Linked DNA regions of Homo sapiens: all the other regions are linked to region 1. The links come from fine-mapping of genetic effects on gene expression. A gene starts in region 1. Each other region holds a variant in brackets. All regions are shown on one strand. Distances are between the middles of the regions. Region 1 holds the start of SAMHD1 (SAM and HD domain containing deoxynucleoside triphosphate triphosphohydrolase 1). Region 2 has its middle 26 kb from the start of NNAT. Region 3 overlaps RPN2 (ribophorin II).

Region 1 (7,760 bases):
TTTGTAAAGTTGAGGTCTCCTGATGTTGCCCAGGCTGGTCTTGAATTCTTGGGCTCAAGTGATCTTCCCACACTGGCCTCCCAAAGTGCTGGGATTATAGGTATGAGCCACTGGGCCAGGCCTCCAGTGGTTTTTGATGAGAATACTTGTTAAGGTATAGATCACATGAGTTCTAGAGTCCAAAGACCTAACCTTAAAAAATCTAGCTCTTTTTTGTAGTGGTGTGATCTCTGAAAAGTTACTTTACATCTTTGGACCTCGCATACATCATCGGTAAAATGTGTTGAGTGTAGTAACTTATTTCAGACTTCTTGTGAGGCTGTATTCCATAATGAGAAAAGGGACACTGTACCTTGTGCTTGGCTTATCAAATTAAAAAAAAAATGGACTTAGATAAAGAGAGACTTTTTTTTTCTTTTCCGAGATGGAGTCTCACTCGGTCGCCCAGGCTGGAGTGCAGTGGCGGGATCTTGGCTCACTGCAACCTCCGCCTCCCAGGTTCAAGTGATTCTCCTGCCTCAGCTTCCCAAGTAGCTGGGACTACAGGCACATACCACCATGCCCGGCTAATTTTTGTATTTTTAGTAGAGACGGTGTTTCACCATGTTGGCCAGGCTGGGCTTGAATTCCTGACCTCAGGTGATCTACCTGCTTCGGCCTTCCAAAGTGCTGGGATTACAGGCGTGAGCCACCGTGCCCGGCCAAGAGAAACTTTATTAGAAAGAAAGACTATTGCTGGTCGGGCGTGGTGGCTCACACCTGTAATCCCAGCACTTTGGGAGGCCAAGGCGTGTGAATCATCAGGTCAAGAGATTAAGACCATCCTGGCCAACATGGTGAAACCCCATCTCTACTAAAAATACAAAAATTAGCCAGGTGTGGTGGTGGGCACCTGTAGTCACAGCTACTCAGGAGGCTGAGGCAGGAGAATTGCTTGAACCCGGGAGGCAGAGGTTACAGTGAGCCGAGATCACACCACTGCATTTCAGCCTGGCGACAGAGCGAGACTCTGTCTCAAAAAAAAAAAAAAAAGAAAAGAAAAAAAGAAAAGAAAAGAAGAAAGACTATTTCTACAGGGAGAAAGCTCCAATATCAGATATCTGCAAGAGGCTCAGGAATCAAACACATAGGCCGGCCGGGCGCGGTGGCTCACGCCTGTAATCCCAGCACTTTGGGAGGCAGAGGCGGATGCATCACCTGAGGACAGGAGTTGGAGACCAGCCTGGCCAACATGGTGAAACCCTGTCTTTACTAAAAACACAAAATTAGCCAGGCGTGGTGGCGTGCACCTGTAATCCCAGCAACTAGGGAGGCTGAGGCAGGAGAACCACTTGAACCCGAGAGGCAGAGGTTGCAGTGAGCTGAGATTGTGCCGGTGCACTTCAGCCTGCGTGACAGAGCGAGACTCCATCTCAGAAAAAAAATAAAATAATAAAATAAATTTTAAAAAATAATCAAACAGAGGCCCAAGAACCAAACAGAGGTTGGGCATGGTGGCTCACACTTGTAATCCCAGCACTTTAGGAGGCCGAGGTGGGTGGATGGTCACTCGAAGCCAAGAGTTTGAGACCAGCCTGGCCAACATGGCAAAACCCTGTCTCTAATTAAAAAAAAAAAAAAAATGAGGCCGGGCGCGGTGGCTCACGCCTGTAATCCCAGCACTTTGGGAGGCTGAGGCAGGCGGATCACGAGTTCAGGAGATGGAGACCATCCTGGCCAACATGGTGAAACCCCATCTCTACTAAAAATACAAAAAAATTAGCTGGGCGTGGTGGCACATGCCTGTAATCCCAGCTACTCGGGAGGCTGAGGCAGGAGAATAGCTTGAACCAGGCAGTTAGAGGTTGCACTGGGCCGAGATGGCGCCACTGCACTCCAGCCTGGCGACAGAGCGAGACTCTGTCTCAAAAAAAAAAAAAAAAAAAAAAAAGAATCCAACAGAAAAAGGGTCTTCTTTTATATGATAAAGGACGGGCAAGCAGAAATAAGCAGAATCTTTGGATAGGAACCTGGACGAGCAAGGGAAAATGAGCAGTGTAGCCCAACAGGACAGCATCCTACTGTGGTCAGCCGGTTCTCAAAAGAAACTGACCAGAGGGAGGCATATTCCACTGCTTTAGTGCCTGCCTGGTCAGATCTGGGGGTAAGCAAGAGTTGAGGGGCCCATAAGGGAAGAGAGAAGTCCGAATAAAGTTTGGTCAAGACAAAGCAGAAGCTAAGACATGAGCAATTGGGAACAGTTGGTCAGTTTTTACCAAATGAAAGCACATAGTGTCTTTGATAGCAATAGGTTGTAGGTTTAAGGAACACACATCATTCTGGAGGGTAACGAGTTAATCTACAAACCACTGAAACAGAGAGCCAACCACATTTTGAGACAGAAAATATGGAACTACTTCACTCCACTTGTTGCTAGTCAAAGAAAATAAAGTAATAATCCATCCCAGCAGTGGAGGGAAACGAAAGGGCAAAAGGGGGAAGAAAAAAAAAAAAGGAGAAATGCAATTTCCCATACCCATTCAAGCTATCTTTGGGTCCTGAACCACTAATGTTCCTCCTACCCCAGTTTCCAACCTAGCCAAACAGGGCCCCACCTAACAAATGCAAAAATTTACTAAATTTGCAAATCCCAACCACCAAAGAATCACCTTCCTATTGGACACCTAGAGGATATAAGGCAGGAGTCAAATCTCACACCCACCACAAAAAGTTGAGTAGAATTCACAAGGATGGATGCTTGGATACGAATCAGTAAAATATGATTAAAACTCAACCTAAACACTTCTCCAGGGGATGTGGCCAAACTGTGGCATGCTGGGGATTCAGTGGTCAACTGAACAACCCCAAGGTTCAGATTTTGGAGGGGAACCTGCTTTTAAAGAGCAAAACATGTTCCTTACCATGTTCTGCAAGTGCAGTCAACACACGCCTATCGGGCGCTGCTGGGATGCCAAGGAAGGTGATGGGAATTCAGAGATTAACCAAGCCAGTTCCTTCCCCTTCAGGAAAAGCCTCAATTCAGGGAGGAAACCGAAACCTAAAAGCCCCAGAACATCCTCTGATGTGGCAAGTGTTCAAGGAGCTGCGGTTAGCGCGGAGGGGTCCCGCGAGCCTGGATGACAGCAAGCCGCCCACCAAGGTCTGGGGAAAAATCTCCTTCTAACTAAAAAAAAGGGACCCGAGTCTCGCTTGTCCCGCGCCGGGGTGGCAAGTTAGTGAAGAAACCCACGAGAGTGAGATCCCAATCTACGACTGCCCCTCCCAGGTCCTCAATCCCGGGAGCCTGCTCCCATCCTACGAATCGCCTATCCCAGGCGACCCCATGTCTTCTTCCTCCGCCTCGGGGAGTCAGTCCCGGGAGCCCCATGCCGCAGGCCCTCCTGGGAACCCCCGCCGCAGGGCTCCCTCCCCCGCCTCGGGTCTTCCTTTCCTCGGCGCCCCCAGCGCAGGTCCGCCCTCCCGGGTGCCTCCCGCCGCAGGGCTCGCTCCTCGGCCTCGGTCCTCTCGTGGGGCCCCCTCCCTCAGGGCGCCTGGCCCGCGCCCCAGGTCGCCGCCCTTCGCCCCTCAGCCCCTCCGGAGCCGCTACCTCGGATGTTCTTCAGCAGCACCGGCTCTTCAAAGCCACCGCGCCTGAGGAAGGAGCACACCTGCTCCGGACCCCATGTCTTGTAGTCGGGATGGAGTTCCAGGCCCGGGGACCAGTCTGCCTCTGCGGAAGGGGTGTTTGAGGGGGTTCTCGGGCTGTCATCGCAACGGGGACGCTTGGAGGGCTGCTCGGAATCGGCTCGCTGCATGGCTACACCTGGCGTCCGGCACAGCAGTCAAGAACCTCGGCGCCGGACCCGCGCGCAGGCGCACTGACAGCAGGGCCCTGGCGGGGAGTCCAAGGAGTATTGGCAGCCTATTGGCCTCCTGCGCAGGCTCACTGACAGTTGAGCCCTTCGGGCAGGGCAGCCTAGCGGCTCTTGCCTTGGGCTCCCTGCGCAGGCGCAATGGCAGTCCAGTCGTCCTCAAATCAATCCCGCCAGGGCGCTGGACGTGAACGCGAAAGGGCGTGGCTAGAAGCAGAACTGAGGGCAGTGCTGGTGGAAAGGGGGAGGAAAGAGCGCGCCCGGCACCGCACCCCCAATTAGGGGCTCGTCTAGTGAATTGGGGGTATTCTCCTTCGAATGAGTACACTACCCGCCGCACCTTGGCCGGGTTTCAGATGCCCCAAACTTAAAAGAAGCCTAAAAGGCCGTCAGGCTGCCAGCACCTTCCCAGTGAAGAGGAAAACAGTCAAGGTGCTGAACTGGAAGAACCCGGAATGATTTCAAATGTGACTTGAGGGTGTCTTCATTCCACAGTATTGCTGGTCAACTAGAGGGCCCTGGGATACCTGTTGTCTGGTGTCCACACAGGAGGGGACTTCAGACTTCTTTCCAACTAGAGACAGAGCCCTCCATCCCAACTGCATTCCCAGAGGAAGGAAAGTGGCCAGTCTGATTACTTAAAATTTAACTTCTGAGGACTTTTACTGCCTGGTTGTAACAGCATGTGAAAATGGCAGGCATTTTCCCATCACTTAACCCCTCTGCGGCAGGGCTCAAACTTCCCTATAAATACTGGTCCATGCAATTGCCTGGTAAAAGGACATATCACTATTACTGTTAATAAAGCCAACACACCTTCCCAGCAACCAAGGCATAGACCTGTTTAGGGGGTCAAGGACGAATGAGGCGGAATAGCTTATCATCAAGCAGTATGAACTAGTGGTCTACTGGTGAGCCAAAATATTATTTGCAAACAGAGCTTTACTGTGTGCCAGGCACGGTTCTAAGGGCTTTACAAATATAAAATAATTTTATATTTATACATAATACTAAATGAATTAAGTACATTCATTAAATTATTTAAATATTAAATAATTTTTATAACTTCTAAGGGTTTTACAAATATTGTAAAGTTCTAAGGGCTCTACACATATTACTTCACTTAATTATCACAATTACCTTAGGATGTAGGAAAAAGTAATTTGCCGCAGGTCTTCTTTTTTTTTTTTGAGACGGAGTCTTGCTCTGTTTCCCAAGCTGGAGTGCAGTGGCGTGATCTCAGCTCACTGCAACCTCTGCCTCCCAGGTTCAAGTGATTCTCATGCCTCAGACTCCCAAGTAGCTGGGACTACAGGCGCCTGCCACCACACCTGGCTAATTTTTGTATTTTTAGTAGAGACAGGATTTCACCATGTTGGCCAGGCTGGTCTTGAACTCCTGACCTCAGGTGATTCCCACACCTCAGCCTCCCAAAGTGCTGGGATTACACAGCCGTACCCAGCTGCCCAAGGTCTTACAGCTAGGAAATGATGAAGCCTGTATTCAAACCCAAGAGATGTAACTTGGTTCCAAAGTCCATGGTCTTGATAACTTGCCAACCACTGCTTGTTAAAGGGGGTTTGGGGCTGGGTGCAGTGGCTCATGCCTGTAATCCCAGCACTTTGGGAGGCCAGAGCACTCACTTGAGGCCAGGAGTTCAAGGCCAACCTGGCCAACATGGTGAAACCCCATCTCTACTAAAATACAAAAATTAGCCAGGCCTGGTGGTGCATGCCTGTAATCCCAGCTACTCAGGAGGCGGGGGCACGAGAATCACTCAAATGTGGGAGGTGTAGGTTGCAGTGAGCCAAGATCTTCCCGTTGCACTCCAGCCTGGGCAACAGAGCAAGACTCTGTTTCAAAAATAATAATAATAAAAAATAAATAAATAAGTAAAGGGGGTTTTGATATAAAACTATTTTCTATTATTTAACCCACAATTTTCAATGGCTCCCTTTTCCTGCAGACCCATGGAGGAAAGTATAAAGGTGTTCCTGCCAGGCGCAGTGGCTCACGTCTGTAATCCCAGCACTTTGGGAGGCCGAGGCGGGTGGATCACCTGAGGTCAGGAGTTCGAGACCAGCCTGGCCAACATGGCAAAACCCTGTCTCTACTAAAATTACAAAAATTAGCTGGGTGGCCAGGCGCAGTAGCTGTCACCTGTAATCCCAGCACTTTGGGAGGCCGAGGCGGGTGGATCACAAGGTCAGGAGTTCAAGACTAGTCTGGCCAACATGATGAAACCCGTCTCTACTAAAAATACAAAACAATTAGCTGGGCATCGTAGCAGGCACCTGTAATCCCAGCTACTTGAGAGGCTGAGGCAGAGAATTGCTTGAACCTGGGAGGCGGAGGTTGCAGTGAGCTTGGATCGCGCCACTGCACTCCAGCCTGGGCAACAGAGCGAGACTCCGTCTCAAAAAAAAAAAAAAAAAAATTAGCCGGGCGTGGTGGCAGCCGCCTGTAATCCCAGCTACTCAGGAGGCTGAGGCAGGAGAATCGCTTGAACCTGGGAGGTGGAGGTTGAAGTGAGCCATAGCCTGGGAGACAAAAGTGAAACTCTATCTCAAAAAAAAAAAAAAAAAAAGAGTTGTTTTCCATCTGCACACAAGGCCAGGCCCCCCAAAAAAATGCCCTCAAACACTAGAGAACTTTGTGAAAAGACCTGACAGTTGCCAAGACTTGCGAAACCAAAACGGGATAAGAAAACAAATAGCATATGTATGAAAGACTTAATCTCAAGTCAGAAATGGCTGATTTAAAAACTTGTGTTTATAAGACCTGTGGGGAAACCTGCCCTGACATCAAGGTTTCCTGGACAATAGAAGGTGTTATAGCAGGGTTTTTAGTTTAATCAACTGTGTTTGTTCAAAGCAGCTGCTTTTAAGAATTTTTAGTTTTTTAATTTCATTTTTTTATTTTAATTTTAATTTTAATTTTTTTTGAGACAGAGTCTTGCTCTGTGGCCCAGGGTGGAGTGCAGTGGTGCAATCTGGGCTCACTGCAAACCTCTGCCTCCCGGGTTCAAGCGATTCTCCTGCCTCAGCCTCCTGAGTAGCTGGGATTATAGGCACCCGCCACGACGCCCAACTAATTTTTTTGTATTTTTAGTAGAGACGGGGTTTCACCATGTTGGCCAGGCTGGCTTTGAACTCCTGACCTCAAGTGATCAGTGAACTCCTGACCTCAAGTGCCTTGGCCTCCCAAAGTGCTCAGATTACAGGCATGAGCCACCGCACCCATCCAGAACTTTTATTTTCTGTTTTTGTTTGTTAAAAAGTATAATTTATTGCCATACTTATTATATTTTCCCTAATTCCCTACTTTCAAGGGGCCTTTGATCTTGCGCTAGGTCATTAGTTACTTGTTCAGGGTCAACATGGCTGGTAAGGGACAGAGAGAGGATTCAAAGGCAGTGCTCCCTCGCTCCAAAGTATAGGCTCTTTCCAGTTTGCCACTTCATTTAACTCCTCTTACAGTCCTAACGATCCTTTTCCATCATAATTCCACAGCCTGGGAACCAACACCCACTGGACACAGGCCCTGGACTCTGGCCATAGTGAGAGAAATGACTGCTCAAGCTGCCCTCTTCTAAAGTCAATCTCAGTATGGTTAGGACTAGAAAAAACAATAAGATCAATTAATTTAAGGCCCACTGCCCAATGACCTTGAATAAGCCCAGCAAGCTTTCCCTGACCTTATCTATTTACCTTCCACCCAGCCAGGCAAGCTGGGCAATTTTATTTCTGGCAGCATTCACCTGTGGTTTTTACATCTCTTCACAGCTTCCTTTTCAGCCAGTGTTGCTGGTTCTCAATGCCAGCTGCCACCACCCTCTGCATCTCTGTTTTACTGCCTTTTATCATTTACTGAACTTAGCCTCCTCAAGACTTTTTTTCCCATCTGCCC
Region 2 (7,760 bases), 540 kb after region 1:
TAGAGACTATCTTCTTCCAAATATAGTCTTCACACTGACCATCTCAGTGGTCTTCCCAAATAACAAATCTGAATGCATCACTCTAGTGTAAAAACTTTCAACAGTGCCCAGTGACTGCAGGACAGTGTCCAAACTCCTTGACATGGGGGCATCCAAGGCTCTGCAGGGTCTGGTCTCTGTCCACTTCATCTTGCTCTTCCCATCCCCTCCTTCTTTTGTCATAGTCCAGGAACACCAAATACCCTCCAGCTCACTCCTGCTGCTCCTCATTCCCAAGGCTATGCTTGTGCTGTTCCCTCTGTTTAAAAGGTCTTTCCAGTTCCTTCTAGCTTGCTCATTCCTGCTCATCTCTAAGGAGATAAGTCACCCTAAGACCAATGGTCACCTCTTCTGGAAAGTTCTGTGCATATTTATGTTTCGTTACTGCACTTACCATACTGTACTATGATGGTCCATTTAAATGCTGTGTAGTAGGATCATATTTTATATATTATTTGATGTGCTTCCCCACCCCCCACCACACTTCCTTGCCCATCACCATGTTGGTGCACAACAAACTACACCAAACATTAGTGGCTTACAAACACAATTTATTGGCCAGGTGCAGTGGCTCACACCTGTAATCCCAGCACTTCGGGAGGCCGAGGCAGGCAAATTACTTGAGCTCAGGAGTTTGAGACCAGGCTGGACAATATGGGGAAGCCCCATCTCTATCAAAAATACAAAAATTAGCCAAGTGTAGTGGTGCACGCCTATAGTTGCAGCCACTTGGGAGGCTGAAGTGGGAGGATTGCCTGAGCTTAGGAGGTCCGACGCTGCATTGAGCCATGATTGTGCCACTGTACTCCGGCTAGATGACACAGAAAGACCCTGTCTCAAAAACAACAACAACAAAAACAAAAACAGTTTATTATTCCTCATGGTTCCGGGGTTGATAGGGCTCAGCAAGGTGGTTCTTGCTTAAGTGTTTCATGCAGCTGCAGTCAGATGGCAGCTGGGGCTGGAGTCATCTGCAGGCTCATTCACATAGTTGACAGTCAGCTGGGGGCTTGCTGAGACCGTTGACTGGAGTGACCACATGTGGATTTACCACAGGACCTGCACTTCTCATAGCATGGCAGCTGGCTTGTAGGAGGGAGTGTTCCAAGGCCAAGCATTGCAAGAGGCCTGGCAGAGGCCATAAGGCTTCCTGCGACCTAGTCTTACAAATCCCAGAATGTGCCTTCTGCTATATTCTATTGGCCAAGAAAGTCACTAAGGCCAGCCTAGATTCATGGGGAGGGAATTACACTTCTCTTCCTGATACAAGGAGTATGATATATATCGCAGGAAGGCAAGTATTGGTGGTGGCCATCTTTGGAGACTAGCTACCAAGGTCACTTTTTCCTGATTCAGTCAGAGCTTTGCAGGATTTGGGTTGTTGCAGCATGAATGCAGTGAGAAAGATGGTCAGTAGTTTCAAAGAGTCTCTTGAAACTTACAGCAGACAGGATGCTTTGTTGCAGTAGCCGGGCTTTTGTAAAGAGGAAAGAGCTTGAGGGACTGAGCACTTGAAATTGATGCCAGAATGGTAAACAGGGAAGAATACAGAAGCTGTTTTTCTGCCTAAAAGGAAATAAAAGTTTGACCAGCTAGTGGGAATAAAGGAATCACAAAGAGATGTAGCTCATAGTAGATACTAGAGCTCCCAGAGTAAATTTGAGGTATCCCAGAGCAGAAGGGACTGTTGCCTGGCTCCTCAGGTGTTGCCTGAGAGAACACAAGCTCCTGGCATGGGCTGGAGAGAGGCTGAGGACCCCTGGTGGGAGAAGGTGGCTGGGAGGTGTCCTCCAGGGTCCTGTTTGTCTTTGTAACACGGTGGTGATGGTGAGGGTGTAGAGAAGAGGGTGAGTGTAGCCGGTGGACTTGGAGGTGCCTCATGGTCAGGACAAAGATTTAGTAGGGATTCTGTGGCTCAGTGGATGGCAGTGGATAGTTGCTGGCAGACCTGAATCACTTGTATGCCCCTGGTGCCAGGTCAGAATAGAAGCTCCCAGAACACTGACTACCCACAAGGAGAAGGAGCAGTGGGAAGCAGAGGAGCTGGAAGTGGACCAAGAATCTACTTAAGATAGTCTTTTGAAATGTCCAGATGTGGCTGGGTTTACCTTCAACTAAGTTTGTGCTACTGAGCAGAATGGAGTGGCAGTGGTGTTGGGAAGAGTTAACCTGAGTAATGAAGCAACATTTTGGAGAGGCTCTGTTTGTAGGTTTCTGGGCTAGCACCTGGGGCCACCTTCAACCTTTCATTCTGTCTCATCTCTCCCGTGCACTTGGCACCATGCCCCCTATTTCTACCTCCAAAACTTCTCTTGCCTCCGCCTTCTCTCCATCTGCACTGTTGCTTAGCTCAGACCTGCGTTATTTCTCACCTGGACAACTGTGGTGCCTCTTAGGTACTTCCCTACCTCCAGGCTGTTGGGGCCTGATCAAACCCTTTTCTGCTGGCAGCCAGAGGGATGACCTCTGTTCTTTTTCTAGAACTGCGCCAATCCTTCTTGGAAATCATTCTGCACCCCAACCTATTTGCTTTGAAATTCACCTTCTCATTTATTGCACAACCCACTTTAATGGCCATCATTGATTTGCCAGAGGTGAACCCCAACTCAACTGGGCCAATGGAAGCTTTTGTCTAGATTTCTGGACTTGGGAACAGAGAGAGCTCATAACATGTATGGAGCACTTAGTGTCCATCCCCGAGGTAAGTACTTGATGGACATCATCTCCTTTGACCCTCACAGCATTAAGCTGGTGCTGTTGTTATCCCCATTTCCTATGTGAGGACACTGAAGACAGAGAAATTAGACAAAACAATGAGTAAGCAAGTAGCCCTGATGCTTAACCAAGTTCCTGCGCTCCTACCTCGATCTCTTTGTGGTCATGAACCTGAGAGGTGTGAAACATTGGCAGTCACGAACGCCAGTGTGTGGAAGAGGCATCCCTGAGAGAGGGAGCTGGCAGGCAAAGAGACGTGGAGACATGGAGATGGGAGAGGGGCAGGCTGCCAGTTAAGTCCCTGGCCCCGGGGGACCGGAAGGTCAACTGAACCTAGCTTGGCCTGTGGTTTGCGTATAGAAGCCAATTAAGTTCCTTCTGTGCCTGAGCTGGTTTCAGTTGAGCTTCTTCCACTGGCAAAGAAACTTAACTAAATGAAAGTGATCACACCTGTCTCCCTGCTTAAGAACAGCCACGGCCAGGCATGGTGGCTCACGCCTGTGATCCCAGCACTTTGAGAGGCCAAGATGGGCAGATCACCTGAGGTCAGGGGTTCGAGACCATCCTGGCCAACATGGTGAAATCCTGTCTGTACTAAAAATATAAAAATTAACTGGGCGTGGTGGCACACGCCTGTAATCCCATCTACTCGGGAGGCTGAGGCAGGAGAATCGCTGACCTGGGAGGCAGACATTGCAGTGAGCCGAGATCATGCCACTGCACTCCAGCCTGGGCAACAGAGTGAGACTCCGTCCATTAAAAAGCAAAACAAAAGAAAAAACGGCCACTGGTTCCTCATTACCCTTGGATAGAAGCTCACTTCTTGTCATGACACAGCAGCACTGCAGGTGCAGCCAGCCTGATCTGTCACTGATCTCCCTCCTGCCACACCCATGCCCCCAACCCTGTGTGTCTCAAATCGGCTGGACTCCCTGCAGTTCCCTTAAGAACCCAGGAAGGTTGCTGGCCCTCCAGGATCAGGTGAGGTGAGATCCACCCACAGCTTGCTCCTCATCCCCAGCTCTAACGCCCCTTGAATCCATCTAGGATTTCACCTGGGCAGTCTCACCAGCTGTGGGCCTTTCCTTTTCTGGAGTCAAAACTTAGCTTCTCTTATGTGTCAGCTCCTAAGAACATTTGACAACATCTTAGAAAACTGCAAAGTATCCAAATGTACCCAGAGGCAACCACTGTTCACATCTTGACACACTTGTTAT[C/T]AGAATTGTTTGTTTTTAGGGACAGTGCCTGGTTCTGCTGACCAGGCTGGAATGCAGTGGCTATTCACAGGCACAATCACAGCGCACTGCAGCCTTGAGCTCCTGGGCTCAAGTGATCCTCCTGCCTCAGCCTCCCAGGTAGGTGGGAATACAGGTGCATGATGTGCCTGGCTTATCAGAATTTTTTTTTTTAATCCAAGAGAATAGAAGGGCTTTTGATGAAGAGCAGCAAGTTCGGGATGGACCCTCTCCCAACCCCAAACTCTTACCCGAGAGTGTGTGATCTCTGCTCCTGGAGGTTGTCTCCTAGCTGTAAGCTCTCAGCTTGTATTAGGAAGAATGCTTTCACCAGAACGTAATATATCACCTAAAAGTGGCTAAGCAACAAGAACATTTATTTCAAGTAATGAAAAGTTCAAAAGTCAGTGGTTCCAGGTATCTGAGATCTGAGTGAACAGAGAACCATGAGTCTCCTGGCCTTCCCCTCCTGGTCACAAGATAGATAGCTGTCAGGGCTCCAAGCACTATGTTTTCACTCAACAGCACCTAGGCAGAAAGAAAGGGGGCAGCCAAGAAACTTCTCCAAGTGCATCCCTCTTTTTCTTTTCTTTTTTCGAGACACGGTCTCACTCTGCCACCCAGGCTGGAGTAGAATGGCATGGTAGTAGCTCACTGAAGCCTCAACCTCCCAAGCTAAAGCAATCTCCTCACCTCAGCCTCTTGAGCAGCTGGGACCACAGGTGCATGCCACCACGCCTGGTTAACTTTTGTATTTTTTGTAGAGATGGGGCTTCACAATGTTGCCCAGGCTAGTCTCGAACTCCTAGGCTCAAGCAGTCTGCCCGCCTCAACCTCCCAAAGTGCTGGGACTACAAGGCGACAGCCACTGTGCCTGGCCCCACATGCATCTCTTTAATTAGGGAGGAAAGTGTTTCCCTGAAACTGCCTGAAGATATCCCCTTACAAGTCCCAAGTCAAAACTGGGTCATGGGAGCCCTCTAGACAGCATCTGCTACACCCCATTTCTAGTTCATAAGATCCACTGATGTCCCAGTGGATTAGGCATTGGGTCACTTGGAAACTACTCCCCTCTATCCCTACCTCTCCTAACACAGTCTTTAAGTACCTCTGTTGGTTATCTTTTTAAGAAACCTACTTGCCCCTTCATTCCTTATTCTACCACATGTCCACAGAAGCTCTTGCCTCCCCACTATTGTCCCTGTCAACCTTCCTACCCTCTTCCCTTCACTGCTACCTCCCAACTTTTATATCTTTACTTTCACATTGTGACAGATGATAATGTTGACATTCTATTCTGCAACCATAATAAAATTCAGGTCAATACAAAAGTTGAATATTAATGAAAACTAGAAAGATAACATTTTCATTATTTAAGTATACCATATATTTCCTCTGGGTATCTATATATGTAAGTTTTTAGAAACGTCTAGAAAAGTCCACATTGAGCCCATTACTGTGGTTACCTCTGGAGAGGAGGAAGGGAATAGGGTGGCAGTGGGTGGCCAAAAGGGACTCCAGCTTCATCTGCAATGTTCTCTTTTTTAAAAAAGGGGAACGTATTCATGTTTTGCTTGTGTCATTCGACTTCAATTTTTTAAAAAATTACTATTTATTTTCAGCCAATAACGTGGGCTCCGTGTGTTTGGATGTGCTTGCATGTTTGTGCCCAGGGAGGAGGAATATTTACTTTGTGTGTGCCTGTGAATGAAGTAGAGTGATTAGTAAGCAGATGAAAAAGAAATGTAGCAAGCAAAAGCAAAACAAAAAAGGGGGCTGGAGAAAACTAATTCACAACAATAATAAAAAGTATAGGAATAAACCCATTAGGAAATGGGCAAGTTCTTTATGGGGAGAACAACAGTGCATGAGTGAAGGACATACAAGATAATAAGAATAAACGTAGAGCTCTACTGTATTCATGAATTCAAAGGCTCGGTATTGTATTGATGTCAATTTCTCCAACTTGACAAGCTGGCTTTACAATTCATGTGGAGGAGTTAGTGTGCGGTACTAGTTAGCTAAGAGAGCTGAGAAGGAAGCACAACGAAACATGGCATTTGACTTCACAGATACCAAAAGGTGGGACAGCAAAGAAAACAGTCTTGTACTGAAAGGAATAAATGGATTGTTGGGAAAAACAGGGGCTTCAGACACACCTGACTCAGAATATCAGGGAGTTTTACTTCAGGTCAGAGGGGAAAGGAAGAACTAGTCAACCCCTCATACTGCAATAATTGGCTGCCCGTTTGGAGAAAGGTTAGATCATATATCAATATGATAATCAAAATATATTCCAGATGCATAAAGAACCAAATAAAAACAAAATTATAAAATTATTAGAAAAGAAGAAATAATATATTTAAATCTTAGGAGTAGGGAAGGACTAAACATGGTATCTGTATAAAAAAGGATCAAAGGAAAAGATTGATAAATTGGATTATGTCAAAACTAATAACTTCTAACAAAAGATTCTACAAAGAGTTAAAGGCAATGACAAGCTGGAAGAAAATATTTGTCACATATCTACAAAAGATCAATATCCAGATTATATTACAAAACTCCACAAGCCAGTGGGATAAAGACAACCTAATGCTTAAAATGAGAAAAAATAACAGGCAATTCAGAAAAGAGAAAATACAAATGCTCAATATACATATGAAAATCTCACAAGCAAACAGGAAAATACAAATTTTAAAAAGGATTCAATTTTTCACCCATGAGATTGGCAAATATTTAAAACAACCGCCTATGGGTGTGGGGATTACAGCCCTCTCATACCCTCTGGCTGGAAGCTTAAATGGTACAGAAATCATGGAGGACAGTGGTAGTATCTGCTAAAACTAAAACTGTGGACATATTAAGACCCAACATTCCATTTCCCAATCACTCCCAGAGATATCCCACCACAAAGGAACATGCAATGTGGTTTCTGCAGCACTGCTCATGATGGAGGAAAGAAAAAGAAGCAATTAAATGTCCATGGAGCTTACAGAAGATAAAATGTGGTACATTCATGGGAATGAATACAACATAGCTATTAAAGGCAAAAGCAAGCTATGTGTAGCAATAGGAGTATATTGTAAAAATGTAACACTGAGTGAAAAAAACCTGCAGCTTATAGTAAAATCGCTATAATGTGGTATGACTCATTGAAAATACATCAGGACTATGTGTTACTATGGATGGAGATACATAAAACTGTGGAGGGGGTGGGAAATGAGGACTCCAGAGGGTGGCCAAAGGGGACTACAGTTATATTCATATTGTCCTACTTTTAAAAAGGAGAATGTATGCACACTTTACTTGTTTAATTAAAGTATAATTTGAAAAGATTCTAATTTGTTTTCAGCCAATTATGCTGCCTCTGTGCGTCTGGCTGTGCTCAAATTTTTGTGCCCAGAGAGGGAGAACGTTTACTTTGTGTGTGTCTGTGAATCAAGCACAGTGATTAGTAAACAGGTTGAAATGGGATATGAAAAAACAAGGGCCAAACAAATAAGAGCAGAGGGCAACCTATTCACAGTTAACAGCAAAACCTATAATATACCTAGGAATGAATTCAACAAGAAATATGTCAGACTTTAACCAGAGAAAACCATAAAACTGTCCTGAAAGATGTAAAAGATGACCTGAATTGAGAATAGAGCAATGTGCCGTGGTAGGAAGACTCTATATGATAAAGATGTCAGTTTTCCTTAAATTTATCCATAAACTCAGGCCAGGTGCAGTGGCTCATGCCTGTAAACCCAGCACTTTGGGAGGCTGAGG
Region 3 (5,000 bases), 280 kb after region 1:
TGCAGCTTTTCAAAGAATGGATAGATTTATATGCTGATAGGACAAGATTGCCAAGATGTGTTACTGAGTGAAAAAGGCAAGGGGTAGGGTAGTGTGTTTAGTATGATCCTCTGTAAAGTTTTAAAAGGTGGCTGGGTGTGGTGGCTCATGCCTGTAATCCCAGCACTTTGGGAGGCCGAGGTGGGAGGATTGCTTGAAGCTCAGGTGTTTGAGATCAGCCTGGGCAACATAGCAAGACCCCATCTCTACTAAAATCAGAAAATTAGAAAAAAAAAAATTAATGGTGACGTATGCCTGTAGTCCCGGCTACTTGAGGAGCTGAGGTGGGAAGATCACATGAGCCCAGGAAGTCAAGTCTGCAGTGAGCCATGCATTCTAACCTGGGTGACAGAGTGAGACCCTGTCTAAAAAAAAAATAAAAATAAGTTTTAAAAGGCGATATGTGTTAGTGTTGGTCATCTCTGAGGAGTGGACATTCTGGAGAATGTAGAGGAAGTAACTTTTACCTTTTCTCCTTTTCAGTACCATTTGAATTTTTTTTTTTAGCCAATTGTGTTTTTCTCTTTTTTCAAATTATAAACAAACATGAATGCATATCCTCAAAGCTCAGAGAATTTTGAGAAAACACTCATTAGATCTTACTTTTGGAAAGTTGCCTGTGTTCCTAATTGTTGCTTTTAACAAAAGAATTACTGTTTAAATCTAGATAAATCTAGAAGCCTTGCTACAGGTTTTCAGAAACCAGACCTAGGGTATGGGCACCTGTCCTTACATTTCAGTGATGAGAATTTCAAATGACATGGAACCCACGGCAAGAGCGTGAATGCCACCAGCTGCCGGTGGGTTTATCTTACCAATTCTTAGAGAACTTAGTGGGGGTGTCAGTTACCTTATAAATGCAGTTTCTGACCTTTCAGCTTCATGGTCTCACCTGTTTTAAAATAGTAGGGTTTGTCATCATTAAAAATGATGTTCAGGTTTGAGTTACACGAGCCCATTTGAGAGCAGGTGCTGAATGCCTTTCTAAAGAAAAAGGGAACAAGTTTCCCCGAGGGCTTATAATAGGGTGGTTGTCACTTGGAAGAATTGCCTGTCCTTCTAGGATGCATGAACTTTGAAGCCTTGGGGCTGTTGATGGGATTAGCATTGGCATGGCTTGTGTTGCTTCCCTTTTAAGTTCTAATGCCTTTTTAATTTATTTCTCCCCATCATTCAGTGGATCCGGATTGGTGCCAATGTCTCCAACTTCACTTTTGCTCCTAGCACGATTATATTTCACCTGGGACATGCTGGTAAGTGCCCCAGGCTGCTAATTACCTGTAACGTCCTCTGACATTTAGCCTGCCCACGCAAAAGCCCTGTTAAGTAGACCCACAACCTATTACCTATAATGACTTAATAGCATTACATTTCCCTCTTCCTCCTGGCCTTTTAGGACAGTTAATACGAAGATAAACCTGTTTGGTCCATCACTTAGAACAGCTGTCATTATATTGGGCTTTGTTGTACTGTGCCACTGTTGGCAGACCATTTACCCTCAGTTAATAACCCTGTTTATTTCCAGAGATTACTCACTTATCGTATCTTTACATTGAGCAATCTTCCTGGATGAAGAGCATTAATGCAGTTTCCAAAGGTTATCTTTCCCCACGCTATCGATCTTCACATTTGCTGCCGGCTCTGTCTGTGTAGTAATAGAAAACAGTCCTTTCCACAGTCAGACATGCTATCCTGCATCGTTCTCTGGAGACCTTAGGACTTCAACAGCCTAAACATAACAAGACAGTAAATTCACAAATCACTTAAGCATTTCTGAGGCTTTTGATGCTATTGGATCAGGGGTGCCTTGCATTTCACTGTGACTTTAATTTTTTGTTCGTTGTTTTTTTTTTTTTGAGACAGGGTCTTACTCTGTCACCCAGGCTGGAGTGCAGTGGTGCATTCATGGCTCACTGCAGCCTTGACCTCCCAGACTCAGGTGATCCTCCCACCTCAGCCTCCAGAGCAGCTGGGACTCCAGGCTTGTGTCACCACATTTAGCTAGTATTTGTATTTTTTGTAGAGACGGGGTCTTGCTGTGTTCAGAGCTGGTCTTGAACTCCTAGGCTCAAGCAGTCTTCCCGCCTTTGGCCTCCCAGAGTGCTAGGATTATAGGTGTGAGCCACCACGCCTGGCCTGACCTTAATATTTTTAAAATTCTTTGCCTCTTTCAGGAGTCACTATCTGTGCGCCCATAGTAAACAGATTCTGTAGGGGTGCATAGATAAGTCTCTTGAAATTCTAGGCAAATGTCTGTATTTTTCTGGGGAAAGAGAGAGTTGTGACTTTGATCAGATTATTATGGTGCAGTGGTCCGTGACCTCAGAAGTGGTTAAGAGCCCCGCTGTAGTTCATCCGTCATCTGTCTGGGCAAAACTGACAGGATGACCTTTCTCTCTGGCTCAGTTCCTGGATATGTATGATAGCCCTCTGGGGTCAGAC[C/CGA]GAGAAGAAAACCTGAATATAAATCTGTTGAGAGCCGTGGCTTTTCCTGCCATTGTGCTTTTTGTGCACGTTTTCTCATTTGATTATCATCATAGCCCTGATGAGGGTGACTGGGGCAGGAATTATGATCCCTTTTGACAAGGTGGGAGAATCTGGGCTCAGAGAAGTTAAGTGGCTGGTAAGGGCAGGGCCTGGACCAGGCCCCAGGGCTCTCCGTTCCCAGCTCTGAGCCCTTTTCACTCAGCCTTCTTCCTGAGTCCTCCTTGCTCCCTTCCTAGTCACAGTGGCAAATTATCCTTACAGTTTGTTTCCCCCCATAAAAAAAGAAATTATTCATTTATTTATATCCTGTTTATTTTTTATTTTTATTTTTTATTTTTTTGAGATGGAGTCTTGCTCTGTCTCGCCCAGGCTGGAGTGCAACGGTGCGATCTTGGCTCACTGCAGCCTCTGCCTCCCAGGTTCAGGCGATTCTCCCACCTCAGCCTCCCAAGTAGCTGGGATTATAGGCCTGCGCCACCACACCTGGCTAATTTTATATTTTTAGTAGAGAGAGGGTTTCACCATGTTGGCCAGGGTGGTCTCGAATGCCTGACCTCAAGTGATCCTTCTGCCTCGGCCTCCCAAAGTGCTGGGATTACAGGTGTGAGCTCCCGCACCCAGCCTATTTATATCCTGTGTATTTTTGTTAAGAATTTGAAAAATGAATGCCAAGTATAACATGACAGAGGAGTTTTAAACAAAAGCAGAGAAATAGTTGTAAGCAGGAACATGGCACAGGTCGCTGAAGTCCAATTGTTACCCCTGTTTGTGGGTGTGTGTGTGTTTTGAGACGAGGTATCACTGTCACCCAGGCTGAAGTACAGTGGTGTGATCAAGCTCACTGCATCCTTGACCTCCCAGGCTCAAGCGATCTTCCTACCTCAGCCTCCTAAGTAGCTAGGACTACAGACATGGACCATTACGCCTGACTAATTTTTTGAATTTTAATAGACACGAGGTCTCACTGTGTTGCCCAGGGTGGTCTCGAACTCCTGAGCAATCCTCCTGCCTCAGCCTCCCAAAATGTTGGGATTACAGGTGTGAGCCACTGTGCCTGGCCACACACTTGGCCACAGCTGAGAGGCGAATATATTGAGTTAGCTACTTTTTGGCATCAGAGCAAAGGAATAAAACAAGCTGGTATAGGAGTACAGACCTTTTCATGATCCAACAGTTGCTATGTCTAACTTTCCTCAACCGCAGGGCATCATTATGTTTCATTTAATTGGATGTCATGACACCTCTTCTTGCAGCTATGCTGGGACTCATGTATGTCTACTGGACTCAGCTCAACATGTTCCAGACCTTGAAGTACCTGGCCATCCTGGGCAGTGTGACGTTTCTGGCTGGCAATCGGATGCTGGCCCAGCAGGCAGTCAAGAGGTAAGGCCAGACATGAGCCAGGGATCTAGAGTAGGGTTAGAAATACTCAGCTCTGCCGGCCTAGCTCTTTGAAGGGTAGGTGGCAAAATGATTTGTGTTCTTAGGGGCAAGTCTGACACCCTAATCTAGCCCAGTACAGAAGCCAGAAGCACTTTGAAGTCAGAAAAGAGCCTTAGTGGTCAGCTTTGAATGTATTACAACCATTGTAATTGATGCCCCAATACAATAGAATGAGAGAGGAAAATTATTAGCTTTATGAAGATGAAAATGCATTCATAGATGTGGCAGAAGATTAATTTGTTAGCTGTGTAAAAATTCTCTGCTGCTACAGAGAATCCTGCCCTGCCCTCCCCACCCTCAACATGTCCCCGAGAGCTGCTCCTCTGTAACCCTCACAGCTCCAGGAGCTTGTCCCGGAAGCACGAGGTCTGTGTTATTTCCCACAGAAGCTGCAGCAGGTTTTGCAGAGGCTCCCAGCAAGGAGTATCTCCTCAGTAGCCTACACCATCTCCCCGGGACCCAGACAACCTTAGAGTCACATGGATGGTCAGACAGACCTTGACATGAGGGCAGCTTGCTGGCAGCTTGACTTTCTAAACAGAATTGGAGGCAAATTTAAATGTCACAAAGGTGTTTCTCATTGATTTGACTTTATTAGAACCTGAGTGATTTCAGACACGCAAAGGCCAGTAAGAACAGAATTGCTTTCACCTCTGGAAATCGTTTTCAGATGTGCCGCTTTCTTCTATCCAGGACGTTTGCTGGAAGAATGTAACTCAATAGTGTACCCTCAACGTGGCTGCCAGTTAGGGTGCTGGGATCAGAGAGAGGCTTTTTCAGGGAGACCATCAGTGGGTGGGAGAAGATGTCTCATCTCCGCCCGAGTCTCCATTGTGAGCTTTCTGAGCATTTCACCATGGAGACTCGGCACAGACGTGTTCCTTGGCTTTCCTGTAGGAATCCAGGGCCCACCAGAGCTTCCCTTAGCACCAGCAGTGGCAGCTGGTTCATTTTGCCACCCTCCAGTAGCCTTTTCCTGGTGGTTCTGCATTGTACCTGAGAAAGAGCCAGGACTCAGTTGCTTTTGCAAAGCA

What was found. PIP is the estimated chance that this variant, and not a neighbour inherited with it, causes the effect. A credible set is the group of variants that fine-mapping cannot tell apart.
Region 2: its variant is the best candidate, but not a certain one, in a credible set for the expression of SAMHD1 in whole blood (TOPMed, PIP 0.50).
Region 3: its variant is the best candidate, but not a certain one, in a credible set for the expression of SAMHD1 in whole blood (TOPMed, PIP 0.50).

What each region holds. Positions count from the first base shown.
Region 1 is chr20:36,947,850-36,955,609 of GRCh38, forward strand. It overlaps SAMHD1 (SAM and HD domain containing deoxynucleoside triphosphate triphosphohydrolase 1), which reads right to left and starts at 3,859. Exons shown (of 16, transcript NM_015474.4): 1 at 3,587-3,859. The coding sequence starts at 3,794. RefSeq lists a silencer at 3,354-3,573.
Region 2 is chr20:37,491,345-37,499,104 of GRCh38, forward strand. No RefSeq gene overlaps it. Among named protein-coding and RNA genes, the nearest start is that of NNAT, 26 kb to the right of the region's middle. The variant C/T (reference allele first, on the strand shown) is at 3,972.
Region 3 is chr20:37,232,804-37,237,803 of GRCh38, forward strand. It overlaps RPN2 (ribophorin II), which reads left to right. Exons shown (of 17, transcript NM_002951.5): 15 at 1,217-1,292; 16 at 3,777-3,906. Among named protein-coding and RNA genes, the nearest start is that of GHRH, 27 kb to the right of the region's middle. The variant C/CGA (reference allele first, on the strand shown) is at 2,482.